Linked DNA regions of Homo sapiens. The protein of the gene in region 1 purifies or fractionates together with the protein of each later gene. This does not show direct contact. Each region holds a gene or a part of one and is shown on either strand. Other genes may lie near its edges.

Region 1 (7,023 bases):
TGGCATGTGCCTGTAATCCCAGCTACTCGAGAGGCTGAGGCTGGAGAATCATTTGAACCCAAGAGGTGGAGGATGCAGTGAGCTGAGATTGCGCCACTGCACTCCAGCCTTGGCAACACAGTGAGACACTGTCTCAAAAATAAAAATAAATAAATAAATAAATAAAATAAAATCACCCTCTTTGACAGCTTTCCAAATTCTCACTTTATTTTATTTCAATGGATACCATTGTTGAAAATCAAAAGGCCAGGGTTCCAGAACTGATTTCCCTTTGCCAAACCTTAACTACATCAACTACCACAACAATTACTGAGCATTAATTATGTGCCAGATACTGAGTTTATTTAAATCCTTGACAAATTAACAAGGTAGAAACTATTACTATCCAATGTGACAGAAAACAGAGGCAGAGAGAGGTTAAATCACTAGTCCAAGGTCATAGTTAGTGCATAGCAAAACAGAGACCCTCATCTGTGCCCTTAAGCACCATATTATACTGCTAGTCCTCCAAGCAAATTGGCTTCACAATTAGCCAAATGGTCTGCCAAGTGTCTACTCTATCACTTTCTTCTTTTTTTTTTTTTTTTGAGACGGTGTCTCACTCTGTCACCCAGGCTGGAGTGCAGTGGCGCGATCTCGGCTCACTGCAACCTCCACCTCCCAGGTTCAAGCGATTCTCCTGCCTCAGCCTCCCAAGTAGCTGGGACCACAGGCACCTGCCACCAAGCCCAGCTAATTTTTTCTTTTGTATTTTTAGTAGAGACGGGCTTTCAGTATGTTGGCCAGGCTGGTCTGGAACTCCTGACCTTTTGATCCGCCCTCCTCGTCCTCCCAAAGTGTTGGGATTATAGGCATGAGCCACCATGCCCGGCCGTGTCTACTTTATTTCGGACAGTGTTCTGTACCCTGAGTATTCAACAATAAACAAACTCTTCCCTTCAAAGCGCTTATGTTCCACAGAGGGAGGGCATGGAAGAGGAGGGAAGACAGGAAATAAATACCCAAACAAATAAATCAAATTAAAAGATAACATACTGTCTAAATGTGCTGAAGGAATTTAAATACTTGACATATAAGAAAATTTGGTCCTAGTTCCTGAACTCTGACCAACTATTGTACAATAGTTTTTTTTTTTAATTTTAATTTTTTTATCGGGCAATACTCAACAAATGTAGTAGGTGGGCAACACCCCAAATATATTGTTGATAGAGGGAACTGAGCAAGAGTTGGCTGACATGTGAAAAATGTCCAGGTCAAAAAATGCTTTTTTGAGAGAGAGTCTCACTCATTGCTCAGGCTGTGGCATGATCTCGGCACATTGCAACCTCTGCCTCCAGGGTTCAAGCGATCCTCCTGCCTCGCCCTCCTCAGCAGCTGGGACTACAGGCATGCACCACCATGCCTGGCTAATTTTTGTATTTTTAGTAGTGACAGGGTTTCACCATGTTGGCCAGGCTGCTCTGGAACTCCTGACCTCAGGTGATCTGTACACCTCAGCCTCCCAAAGTGCTGGGATTACAGGTGTGAGCCACCGCACCGGCCCAAAATGCATATTTAAACTATGTACAAGTTTTTTTGCCTATCAAATTAGCAATGTTTAAAACTGATAAATTCAGTGCTGGTCAGTAATGAAAGAAACACTGTTAAACACAGTTGGAGAGAGGATAAACCGGAAAAATCTTTCTGGAGAGCAATTTGGTAGTATGTATCAAAACCTTGAAAAGGTTCACAGTATTTTACCTAGCCTTTTTATTTCTTGGCAGGAACCCTAAGAAAATAATTTGAAATACAGTCTATGACTTCTGAATGAAGATGTTCACTGCTTTGTTAATTATAATGGTAAAAACCTGAAAAGAACTAAATGTTCATAAATGGAGAAGTTATGATATTATGGAGTATTTTATATATAATGGAGTATGATACAGCCATTAAAAATGATGTTGGCCAGGTGCAGTGGCTCATGTCTGTAATCCCAACACTTCAGGAGGCCGAGGCAGGAAAATTGCTTGAGCCCAGGAGTTTGAGACCACCTTGGGCAACATGGCAAAACTCTGTCTCTACAAAAAATACAAAAAAATTAGCTAGGCATGGTGGCAAGCGCCTGTAGTCCCAGCTACCTGGGAGGCTGAGGTAGGAGGTTCACCTGAGCCTGGGTGGTCGAGGCTGCAGTGAGCTGTGATCATACCACTGCATCCCAGCCTGGGCAACAGAGTGAGACCCTGCCTCGAAAAAAAAAAAAGTTACCAACAATAAAAAAACCCAAAAAAAACAAACAAATGATATTATATTAACAAAGCATTGTTATTAATAACAAATCAATTATTTTTGCTAAAGCCAAAAAAAAAAAACCCACCTATTTCTCCTGGGATTATGAAATTAAAAGGAAAAAGTTATGAATGTGTAAATATAGTATGATCTCAGGCTTGTAAAAACAGAGAAAAGACAGGAAAAAGACAGAAAGCTGGGCCGGTCACATTGGCTGATGCCTGTAATCCCAGCATTTTGGGAGGCTGAGGTGGGCGGATCACCTGAGATCAAGAATTTGAGACCAGCCTGGCTAACATGGAGAAACCCCATCTCTGCTAAAAATACAAAATTAGCCAGGCATGGTGGCGCATGCCTGTAATCCCAGCTACTTGGGAGGCTGAGGCAGGAGAATCACTTGAACCCGGGAGGCAGAGGTTGTGGTGAGCCGAGATCACACCACTGCACTCCAGCCTGTGCAACAAGAGTGAAACTCCGTCACAAAAAAAAAAAAAAAGACAGAAAATTGGTAATAGCCTTAATATAATAATGGATTGTGGATGACTTTTTCCACTTATTTGTACTTTTCAAATATTTTACAATGAACATAAATAATATTTGTAAAGAGAAAAACAAAAACAAACAAACAAAAGGCAAAAAGACAAGTCCACTTCCCCACAGGTGGTTTAGCAACCTCCTCTCAGTAGCGACGTTCCCAAACTGCTTCCTCTATAATAAAACTGCCAGTGATGGAAACAGCAAGATATGAAAAACAAAAACAAACAAACAAAACGAACAAACAAAATGTCTTGCCAGTGAGACAAGTTAGGAACTTTGTACTTTTGGCTAAAAGAAACATACTAGGAGGATCCAGGTCAGTGTTTCTTAACTTTGGCACTACTGACATTTTAGACCAGACAATTCTTCCCTGTGATGGCTGTCTTAGGCACGACAGGATATATATACAGCATATCTGGCCTCTACCCCCTAGAAGCCAGTAGCCCACGCTACCCCCAGTTGTGATAACCCAAAATGTTTCCAGATATGGCCAAATGTCCCCCGGGGGCACAATCGCCTTTACTGGAGGACTACTAATCTAGGTGACTTGGGTTCTAAGCCTGGCTCAGTCACTGACTCTCTTGTGACTTTATTTTTAAAAAAATTTTTTTTTCTTTTTCTTTTTTTTTTGAGACAGAGTCTCACTCTGTCGCCCAGGCTGGAGTGCAGTGGCATGATCCCAGCTCACTGCAATCTCCGCCTCCCGGGTTCAAGCGATTCTCCTGCCTCAGCCTCTTGAGTAGCTGGGATTATAGGCGCCCACCACTACACCCAGCTAATTTTTCTATTTTTAATAGAGATGGGGGTTTTACCATGCTGGCCAGGCCAATCTCAAACTCCTGACCTCAAGTGATCTGCCTTCTTCAGCCTCCCAAAGTACTGGGATTACAGGCATGGGCCACCATGCCCGGCCTCTTGTGACTTTAGGAAAGTCACTTTGCCCTTGATAAACCTGAGTAGCCCACTTGATATAGCTGTTCTCTGAAGTCCCTTCCAGCTTTGACATTTAACAAGTTAAAAATTGTATGTGTTACCAACAATTGTTTTTATTCTGTTGTTTTCAGATTATGCTACAAGTTAAAATTCCTATTTTCTATGTCAGCAAAGTTAAATGGTAATTAGTATAATCCAAATGTACTGGAATTATAATTGGATTTATATATATGTGTGTGTGTGTGCATGAAAGTTTATTTGTATGTACGTAAATAAAATAACCTTTGGCTACTTACCAGGATTCAGGACTTGTAGACAATTTCGATTTCCTGATTGGTTGGCACCTCCAAATACCCAGATACGGTCAGGTGTGCAGGAGGGAATGAAGCTAGCATGTTCATACCGGGGCAAGAGGCCCTTGCAGGTATCTAAGTCCCACTGGTGTTTTCCTGGAAAACATTTCACCCAGTTCCTAGATTGGGGCTGCCAATTATTATATTGGTTGGCACACTTGAGGAGGGTCATGAGAAGAGGGCCATAAACATAAATGAAAACCACTGAATCACTTAAAGGGCATGTTGTCAACCTCCAGAAAATTCTATAATAGATACTTAGGGGGCTGTCTGCCTAGTCCATAGACCCCGTTCTATGGAAACTGTCCCCACTTTGTCAACCACAAGGATAGATCCCAGATGACATGTTTGTACTATGCTTTGACTTTGTAGCTTTAGCTGATTGGGTTGAAGGTAGCCAATGAAACCAGAATGAGCCAACCAGATCAAGTGCTTCCACTTTCTCATGATCCTGGGCTCTACTTCCTGTCCTTGAATTCTTTGAAACACGCCTGTATTGGCCAGGTGCAGTGGCTCACGCCTGTAATCCGAGCACTTTGGGAGGCCCAGGTGGGCGGATCACGAGGTCAGGAGATCGAATCCATCCTGGCCAACATGGTGAAACCTCATCTCTACTAAAATACAAAAAATTAGCCAAGCATAGTGGCACGTGCCTGTAGTCCCAGCTACTCGGGAGGCTGAGGTAGGGGACTCGCTTGAACCCAGGGTTATTTTACTTGGTAAACCAAGCGGAGGTTGCAGCAAGCCAAGATTGTGCCACTGTACTCCAGTCTGGGAACACAGCAACACTCTGTCTCAAAAAAAAAAAAAAGAAAGAAAGAAAGAAACACGCCTGTATCTGACTAAATAAATTCCCCCTTTTTCCTCTGGTTTAAGTGAGATTCTGTTACTTGCAAATAAATGATGGCTGGCTAAGACAAGTTCACAGAATAGTAATACCTAACCTTGGTCAGGCGCTGTGGCTCATGCCTGTAATCCCAGCACTTTGGGAGGCCGAGGTGGGCGGATCATGAGGTCAGGAGATCAAGACCATCCTGGCTAACATGGTGAAACCCTGTCTCTACTAAAAATACAAAAAATTAGCTGGGCGCGATGGCAGGCGCCTGTAGTCCCAGCTGCTTGGGAGGCTGAGGCAGGAGAATGGCATTAACCCGGGAGGTGGAGCTTGCAGTGAGCTGAGATTGCGCTCCAGCCTGGGTGACACAGTAAGACTCCGTCTCAAAAAACAAACAAACAAACAAAAAACCCTAACCTTTATTATTAACAATTATTTTACTTGGTTAACCAATTACACAAGACCTTTACAGGCATTATCTTGTTAGATCTGAAGCAAGTTATTATCCCTACTTTATAGAGCACTGAGGTCCAGATGGTTGAGATGGTGTAGCCAGGGTCACAAAGCTATTAATAGGTTGCAATAAAGATGTAAGTTGAACTAATTTAATGTAATTGAGGGCTAGAAGTGATTTAATTTACCTTTGAATTTTTTTTTTTTTTGAGATGGAGTCTTGCTCTGTTGCCCAGGCTGGAGCGCACTGGCGCGATCTCGGCTCACTGCAACCTCTGCCTCCCAGGTTCAAGCAATTCTCCTGCCTCAGCCTCCCAAGTAGCTGGGATTAAAAGTGTGAGCTACTATGCCTGGCTAATTTTTGTATTTTTAGTAGAGATGGGGGTTTCACCATATTGGCCGGGCTGGCCTCAAACTCCTGACCTCAAGTGACCCACCCGCCTTGGCCTCCCAAGGTGCTGGGGGATTACACCTCGTCCAGCCTACCTTTGATTTTTTTAGTGCAGGGAGTAGAAATTCAAATGCCTAGGTGGGAGTAACAAAAACTGTGGCAAACTGGAGAATAAGAGCCCTCTTGATAGGTGGCAGCTCAGTTCCAAATAATTGTTGCCATGTAGACAGGGAGGCCTACTGACATTAGATTTTCCAACATTATCAAGAGAAGCCAAACCATTTAAATTTTTATATGTAGATTTCTGCATAATTGGTTGGTAAACAATTTAAGATTATGCTGGGCGTGGTGGCTCACGCATGTAATCCCAGCACTTGGGGAGGCCGAGGTGGGTGGATCACTTGAGGTTAGGAGTTCAAGACCCTCCTGGCCAACATGGTGAAAACCCATCTCTACTAAAAATACAAAAATTAGCGGGGCATGGTGGCACGTGCCTGTAGTTCCAGCTACTTGGGAGTATGAGGCAGGAGAATCACTTTCTTTTTTTTTTGAGATGGCGTCTCGCCCTATCACCCAGGCTGGAGTGCAGTGGCGCGATCTCGGCTCACTGCAAGCTCTGCCTCCCGGGTTCATGCCATTCTCCTGCCTCAGCCTCCCGAGTAGCTGGGACTACAGGCGCCCGCCACCACGCCTGGCTAATTTTTTTTTTTATTTTTAGTAGAGATGGGTTTTCACCGTGTTAGCCAGGATGGTCTCAATCTCCTGACCTCGTGATCCGCCCACCTCGGCCTCCCAAAGTGCTGGGATTACAGCATGGTGAGCCACCATGCCCGGCCCAGGAGAATCACTTTAACCCAGGAGGCAGAGGTTGCAGTGAGCCAAGATCGTGCCTCTGCACTCCAGCCTGGGTGACAGTTTGAGACTCCATTTCAAAAAAAAAAACAAAACTTAAGATTAAAACAATAGGGAAATGTTACATGGACCTAACAAAATACGTAAGTGGGTCACCATTGTTCAACTTCTGCCCTTGTGTAGAGCAAAGAATAATCGTTTCTTTTATTTTCTTTTTTTTTTTTTTTTGAGACGGAGTCTTGCTCTGTTGCCAGACTGGAGTGCAGTGGCATAATCTTGGCTCACTGCAACCTCTGCCTCCCAGATGCAAGCAATTCTCCTGCCTCAGCTGGGACTACGGGCACAAGCCATCATGCCCAGCTAATTTTTTTGTATTTTTAGTAGAGACAGGGTTTCACCATGTT
Region 2 (7,247 bases), about 90 Mb from region 1:
TGAGGCTCTTACGTTGCAGCAGTGGATGGCCAGGAGCAAGAAAGGCAGTGGGCAGTCATCCCCCACCAGAGTTCGGAAAGCAGGCACATCCAGGCCAAAGTCCTGTGGGGACAGAAGGAGGGACCTCCAAGTCAGCTTTTCTTGGGTTCTCCTTCTGCTCCCCAGTCAGAACCTCAACCTCTAGGGAATCCTCCTTGGTTATGAGCCAGCTAGTCTGGAATTCTTTCTTTGCAAACCTAGAAACATTCACCTCAGTGCGTGGTAGGTAGTCAGGGTCTGCAGGTACTCGGGCGATGAGCTCACAGAGGACAATCCCGAAGGCAAAGACATCAGCCTGGGGGTCAGAGATAATAGTGTCGGGGAAGAATTAACAGTTTTCATTTCAGAATTTTGACAGAATATAGCAGAATTTGGTTGAGGGTGGGGGATCTTGACAGTTTTCATGTGTTAGAAGGGTGCCTGTGAGGGGCAAAGGGATCTTGGGGACTCCTGAAGATCTGGTAGGGTTGTTTTGGGGATGGATGGGGCTTTATGAGAATACCTCAAGGGTCTCGGAAGGCCTTGGGGATCTGAAGGGTTGATGTCTCACCTTCTCATCATACAGCTCACCCCGTAACACCTCTGGAGCCATCCAGTATGGGGAGCCCACCACGGCCAATGGCTCCTTCCTTGCCCCCTCCCTGCAGGGGCAGGGGCAGAGTGGTCAGAAGCATCCTATTCAGGCATCCCCCCCAGGCAAAAGGGGATGAGGTGAACTCCCTCCGTTCCCCAAGGGAAACATCCCTGGGGCTCTGGGGACATCAGATAGGGGCACTCTGGGAGATTTGGGGGGAACAGGGACATTCATCTCACCTATACACAGGAATCTTTTCGGCCAGCCCGAAGTCACCCACGACAGCGGTGAAGCCTCGATCTTCCCGTCGGACTAGACAGTTCTGACACACACACACATAGTATCCCCACGCACTCATCACCTTCTGCTGTCTGGCCTCCCAATGTATAACCCAAAGCCCTGTCACTCCAGCATAACTCCAACCCTCTCTGCTCTCCCAGTTTTTCAAGGCACTTCAATATTGCAACATCATCCAACACTCCAAACACAGGGTGCTACTCAGTCCCTCCGAGCACTCCCCTCACCCTGGTCCCCCAATATTCTCCAATGCCTTGCCACTCCAACATCCTAATATATCTGTTATCCATATTCCAACATCCACAGGCCAGTTACAACCTAATAGCCTCAAACCCTCTTTCATGTCTCCACCCACCCTGCTAGCCTACCTTGGATGTGAGGTCGCGGTGAAATACACCTTTGGAGTGCAGGTACCGCAGGCCTCGGGCAATGTCCAGGGCCAGGTGGAGCCTGACCGGCCAGGACAGGGGTTCAGGGGAGCTGAGCAGCTGTTCCAATGTCCCCCCATTCATATACTGGTGCATAGGAGGAGAATGGGAATAGATGTCAGACTTCAGTCTGTATTCTAGGTCCCCCACTTACACGCTAGGGGACACTCCCGAGGATCACAGAGGTCATAGGGGTAAGACTGTGCTGTAGGACCCCCCCCATCCATGTTCTAGGATTGCCCCGTTCAACTCAATAGCCATTAGCCATGTGCAACAATTTAAATAATTTAAAAAATTTTTTAATCAAGTTGACCCACAAAAAATAATCTAAACAATGAAAATAATTTAAATTTAACCACATGTGGCTAGTGGCTACTGTATTGGACAGCACAGATAGAGAACATTTCCGTCACTGAAGAAAATTCTATTGGACAGCACTGTTCTAGGGGATACAGAGAATAAGACCAGTTGAGGCCTTTTATATGTGGTTTGCCTAAAGGAAAGTTCAGGAAAGCCTCCCCTGAGAGGAGATCCTGTTGCCTCTCACTAGTCCTCCGTAGATCCACCAGGCCTGTTGACTCCCTTTATCCTTGGGGGTGAAGGGGGGTGGGGATCCCTCCTTCCTGGCCTATCCTCACCTCTGTAAGAGCGTGCAGCTGTCCCTGGTGCACACAGACTCCCATGAACCTGCAAGAGGATGGGGAAGATAGAAGGATAGGCTATTAAAGGCCTCAGCTCCTCCTCAGTTCCACTTTTCCCGCGGGATCTTTCCCTTTCTCTCCCGCCCAGCAAGCTGCCCAGAGACTGGGGCCGCTCACCTTAGGATGTTGGGGTGCCTGAGCCGGTTCATCAGCTGCACTTCCCGTAGTGTGTTGCCCCGGTTACTGGGGAGCTTGTTCATCTTCAGCACCATGACTTGCCCTGACTGTCGGTGCCGAACCTGGGGGCAGGAGCAGCCGGCGAGGGCCGGGCAGGTCGGGCGGGTCGCCGGAGTCTGGACCCTCTTCCCCGCACTCCCGGCCCCCTAGTTTCAGCCTCTGGTTGAAGGCTCGGTCCCGCCCCTCTGCCCTCTCGGCCGGTCCTACCTTGTAGACCTCAGAGAAGAAGCCGGCCCCGATCTTCTCCGCGCAGTGAAAATCGTCCACACGCGCCAGGCTAGACACGGCGCTGCGGAGAGCCCGGTAGGAGGAGGGGCGGCCCCGGCCCGGGCCTCCGCCCGTGCCCCCCGGCCCCGGGGGCCCCTCCCCCGGCACCTCTCCAGGCCCGGGCCCAGGGCCCCGCAGTGGGGGCCGTTCCCCGGCCATGGCCGGGCCCCCAGCCCGGGCCTGCCTCACATGGCAGGGTCCCCAGGGCCCGGGCAGGCCGCGCTTGCCATGGGCGCGGGCCCAGCCCGATCCCGGGCGCCCGGACTCCGGCTCCCGCCCTGAGAATGGAAGATCCGCCGAAGATCCTGGACCCGCCCCCGCCGCGCCGGCTGGCTGGGCCCGGGTGGACGCCGCGCCGCTCCGCTCCGCGCAGGGCCTGGGCTTGGGCCTGGACCGGGCGGTGGCGGTGACGGTGGCGGCAGCGCTCCGGGGCGCCGGCGGGCTGGCTTGCCGCGGGCGGAGGCGGGCGGGCGGGCGGGCGGCGGCTGCTCCGCTTAGCCGCCGGGGATCAGGCTCCGCGGCCTGCCGGGGGCGGGGCTGGGCCGGGCCTCCGCTTAACTCCTTCCAGCCCGGCCTCCCGGCAGCGGCCACGCCCCCTCAGGTGCGCACCCCCGCCTCCCCGCTTTCCGGCCGCGATGCCCTGGGCCGCCCGGGTCAAATAAGCTCCGGCCTGAGCTTGAATAACGGGAGGGAATTAAGGGCTGATGGTGCGCATGCGAAGCTTAGCTGCCCAGGGAGTCCCCTCTCCTCCCTGGGTTACTGTCCGTTGAGGGTCGGGCTCAGAAACCTGCCGGATTCCTGGGCTCCAGGGACCAACGGGGCAGAAAGGTAGGCCCCTCAGGCCCAGCCGCAATCAGAGGTAGCCTAGCAACCTGTCCACCTTCCTGGCCTGCGCCCCGGCCCAGCCTGCCCATTTCCCAGGTCTCTTCGACTCCGACACCTTGAACCTCTGGCCTCCCTAACACCTTCTACCTTCACGGGAGGTTGTGATACCCCGGGGCTATAGGAAGCCTTTGGCCGGCCCATACCCAGCTTAGCCCCGACTCCTCCTCACTTCATCCTGCCGCCTCCCAATAAAGAAGAGAGTCCAGGTCCTCCGCCCTGTGACCACCCAGCCGGGACCTCCCTCTTACTACTTTGCCCAAAAGACTCTAAGAGAGAAGCCTCCACCTGCAGGGAAGCCCGTCCTTCCGCAAGATCCCACCCCCCTCAAAGAACGCTGTCCCTCGGAGACCCCTCCCTTCCTCAGTGAGACACCTCCCTTTCGGGGGCACTTTTCCCCAGTGTGGCACTGCCACCGTCAGTGTGTCAGAACCCCTCAGTGCTGCACCCCCTTGCTCTGTGTTCCTCCCACGCAGTGAGACCCCACCTCCGAGGAAATCCACTAGTCATTGTGACCCCTCCTCTCAAGGTGACTCCTCCCCTCAGTGTGACCCAGCCCTCCTCAGTGTGAGGGTTCCGCCCTCCACGTAGGAACACGGTCTGCCCCCTAAGGCCGGAGGAGGGGCTGCAACTGGCCTCTTTAAGTCGGCGCGGTGCCTGGGTGCGCACGCAGTCTCAGGACTCCGTGCACTCGCCGTACCAGACGCTTCCGGTTCTGCCGCTGGTTCCTCCTCCGGCCTCGGCGAAATAGCCAATCATCGCTAGGGTTGGGTGGTGACACGCGATCCCGGCGGTCCACTCCGGGGCAAACGGTTTAAAAGGGCGTCGTTGAGCCGCCTGCCACCTAGCGGCGGAACGGTGGGCGGAGGGAGAGAAAGCTGCCGTCTCGAGTGCGGAGGCAGGCTGAGAGCTCCTCGAGGAAGCGAGGCTGAGTCCTGCAGGAATTCTCAAGTACTGTATTGATATTTCTGTAGTAAGCTTAAAAGAGAATTAATACAAGCACAGTCCGTATCGCGTGGGGTTACCGTCTTCCAATGGAGTCTGGTTACACGTTTATGAGACTTGGAGCCAAGAAATACTACTCGCTTGTCGAGGGCTACTGAGAAAAGAATAAAGACGGTCATAAATGATACATGATGCCTTAGAGTCAAGAGAAGGCCAGATGCTGTCTTGGTGCGCTGTACAAGGGAAGGTATTGCACAAGTTTGGAGCGAGAGGAATGGGAGACATTCGCAATCCTTCCACAGCCGGTGGAGGCAGGCCAACCTCACAGAATTGCACGGGGCACGTGCATCCTGTTCTTTTTTCTGGAGGCGTTTGGTCTTCAGCACACGCTCATTCATCACATTAATGTTAACATCTACAACTAATTTGTGAATTTGCTTTTTATTGTATGACATCTGTAAACACTAGGAATTTATGCCTCATTTTGTTTAATATCATAGATCTTTTAACCGACACTGGGTTCTGGCCCTTTATCACGTTTGAGAATTACTGTAGTAGTTGGTGATGGTAATGCCAAGCCAAAGAGCCAGGTGCCTATTTTTTGTAAGATGATTGCGGTGGTTGTATGGAGGCCGGGAGACTGATTAGGAAGGAGGCTGTGACTGTGGTTCAATCAGGAAAGGATGAGACCAGCCTGGCCAACGTAGTGAAACCCCGTCTCTACTAAAAATACAAAAAAATTAGCCTGATGTGGCGAGCGCCTGTAATTCCAGCTACTCTGGAATCTGAGGCAGGTGAATCGCTTGAACCCGGGAGGCGGAGGTTGCAGTGAGCCAAGATCGCGCCATTACACTCCTGTCTAGGCGACAAGAGCGGGACTCTGTCTCAAAAAAACCTTTTGTTGTTGTTTGTATGGTGGAAAATGTCTTAACACACACACACAGAATAGAAAAATGAATGTTTATTTACCTTGGATTAGTAAGACCATTTTGTTGGAAACCCATAGTGCAAAATTGGCTTTCCTTTGCCTCAGTTGTACTGTTGCCATATTTGACCTGGCCCAGGTGAAAGTACCTACTTTCATTTACCCTTCTATGTCAGTGATTCTCCAATGAGCAATTCATGGCCAATCTTGTTTCATCTATACCCGTGCCCTCTTCCCCACTCCATATTTGTGTATATTTCTGACATATCATTTCATCCTGTAAATGTTTCAGTACGTTATCTCTAAATGATAAGGATTCTTCTTTAAAACCAAATCACAGTATTGTCACACCAAAAAAAAACAATAGTTCCTTCATGTCATCAAGCATCCAGTTGTTTACATTTCCCTCACTGTCTTACGTTTGATTTTTAAAAATTGTTTATTTGAATCAAAATCTAAATTAGGTCTGTACTTTGCAGGTGATATGTCTGTCTGTCTGTCTCTCTTTTTGTGAGACAGGGTCTGGCTCTATCACCCAGGATGGAGTGCAGTGGGTTGATCTCGGCTCACAGCAACCTCCACCCCCGAGGCTCAAGCAATCCTGCCTCAGCCTTCTGAGTGGCTGGGACTACTGAGGTGTGGGTACCACCACACCTGTCTAATTTTTGTATTTTTGTAGAGATGGGGTTTGCCACGTTGCCCAGGCTGGTCTCAACTCCTGGGCTCAAGCATTCCATTCGCCTTGGCCTCCCAAAGTGCTGGGATTATAGGTGTGAGCCACCACACCCAGCCATATGTTTCTTAAGTCTTTGCAGATCTATGCTTATTCTCCATCTTTTTTCTTACTATTTTTTAAAACTGGTTCATTTGTCCTGTAGAGTTTCTTAGAGTCTTGATTTCTGTGGTAATTTAGCATGTTCCTCCATCCTCTGTATTTGATATAAATTGGTAACTTAATCAAATTTAGATTTCTTTTGGCAAAACTAATTTGTAGATGGTTTTAGCACTTCTATCAGGAGGTATACAGGAGGTATACAGTGGTGGTCTTTTTGTGATTTTAATAACTGATATTTGTTTCTCAACCGTGGCACTATTGACATTTTGGGCTGGAAAATTCTTTATTGTAGGGGCTGTCCTGTGTATTGTAGGATGCTTAGCAGCATCTCTGGCCTCTACCTAATGGATGCCAGTAGCACCTCCTCCTGACTGTAACAATAAAAAAATGTGTCTAGACATTGCCATTTGTCCTCTGGGGGACAAAATTGACCCTGAATAAGAACCACTGGTCTAGGTTCATTAATAGAGGAGTTAAAGCTGGGCATGGTGGCACGCGACTATAGTCCCAACTACATGGGAAGTTGAGCCGAGAGGGTTGCTTGAGCCCAGGAGTTCGAGTCCAGCCTGGGCATCATAGCAAGACCCTGTCTCAAAATAAATAAAAAGTTAGAAAATAATATTATCATTCCTTCTTTGAATGAATTCCTATAGAAGTATTAGGTAGAATAATTCTATAAGGAGAAACTTTTCCACATTAACTATTTGTTACACAGAGATACATTTCCTAGGAAAGGCAGAATAAATACTTGATTGTTTCTCACTTATTTTACCAGCTTTCAAAGTAATGAGTTGGTTCCCCAGCATCTTCCAAAGTTGACCGATGAGGTTTTTTTTAAAGTACCATTATGAACTCATAATTTAACACATATGTGATATACTCAATTATTGCTAGTTATCTTTTTTTTCTTTTTGAGACGGGTCTCACTCTTTTTCAGGCTGGAGTGCAGTGGCACAAAGCTCACTGCAACCTTGACCTCCCGGGCTCAAGTGATTCTCTCATCTCAGCCTCCCAAGTAACTGGGACTACAAGCACGTGCCATCACACCTGGCTAATTTTTAATTTTTTTGTAGAGACAGGGTCTCACCATGTTTTGCCCAGGCTGGTCTCAAACTCCTGGCCTCAAGTGATCCTCCTGCCTTGGCCTCCCAAAGTGCTGGGATTACAGACATGAGCC

What was found. Proteins that work in one complex are often made in the same cells at the same time.
Region 2: the proteins of RABEPK (region 1) and TESK1 purify together in Homo sapiens (affinity purification with mass spectrometry; 3 studies listed by BioGRID and IntAct, with this or other methods). This does not show direct contact.

What each region holds. Positions count from the first base shown.
Region 1 is NC_000009.12:125,210,531-125,217,553, reverse strand, and holds part of RABEPK (rab9 effector protein with kelch motifs), read right to left. Parts: intron 4,185-7,023; coding exon 4,032-4,184; intron 1-4,031. UniProt on the Homo sapiens protein: Rab9 effector required for endosome to trans-Golgi network (TGN) transport.
Region 2 is NC_000009.12:35,601,015-35,608,261, reverse strand, and holds the start of TESK1 (dual specificity testis-specific protein kinase 1), read right to left. Parts: upstream 3,001-7,247; 5' UTR 2,643-3,000; coding exon 2,424-2,642; intron 2,279-2,423; coding exon 2,157-2,278; intron 2,026-2,156; coding exon 1,977-2,025; intron 1,426-1,976; coding exon 1,279-1,425; intron 936-1,278; coding exon 853-935; intron 681-852; coding exon 590-680; intron 335-589; coding exon 251-334; intron 169-250; exon of another isoform or gene 103-168; coding exon 13-102; intron 1-12. UniProt on the Homo sapiens protein: Dual specificity protein kinase activity catalyzing autophosphorylation and phosphorylation of exogenous substrates on both serine/threonine and tyrosine residues.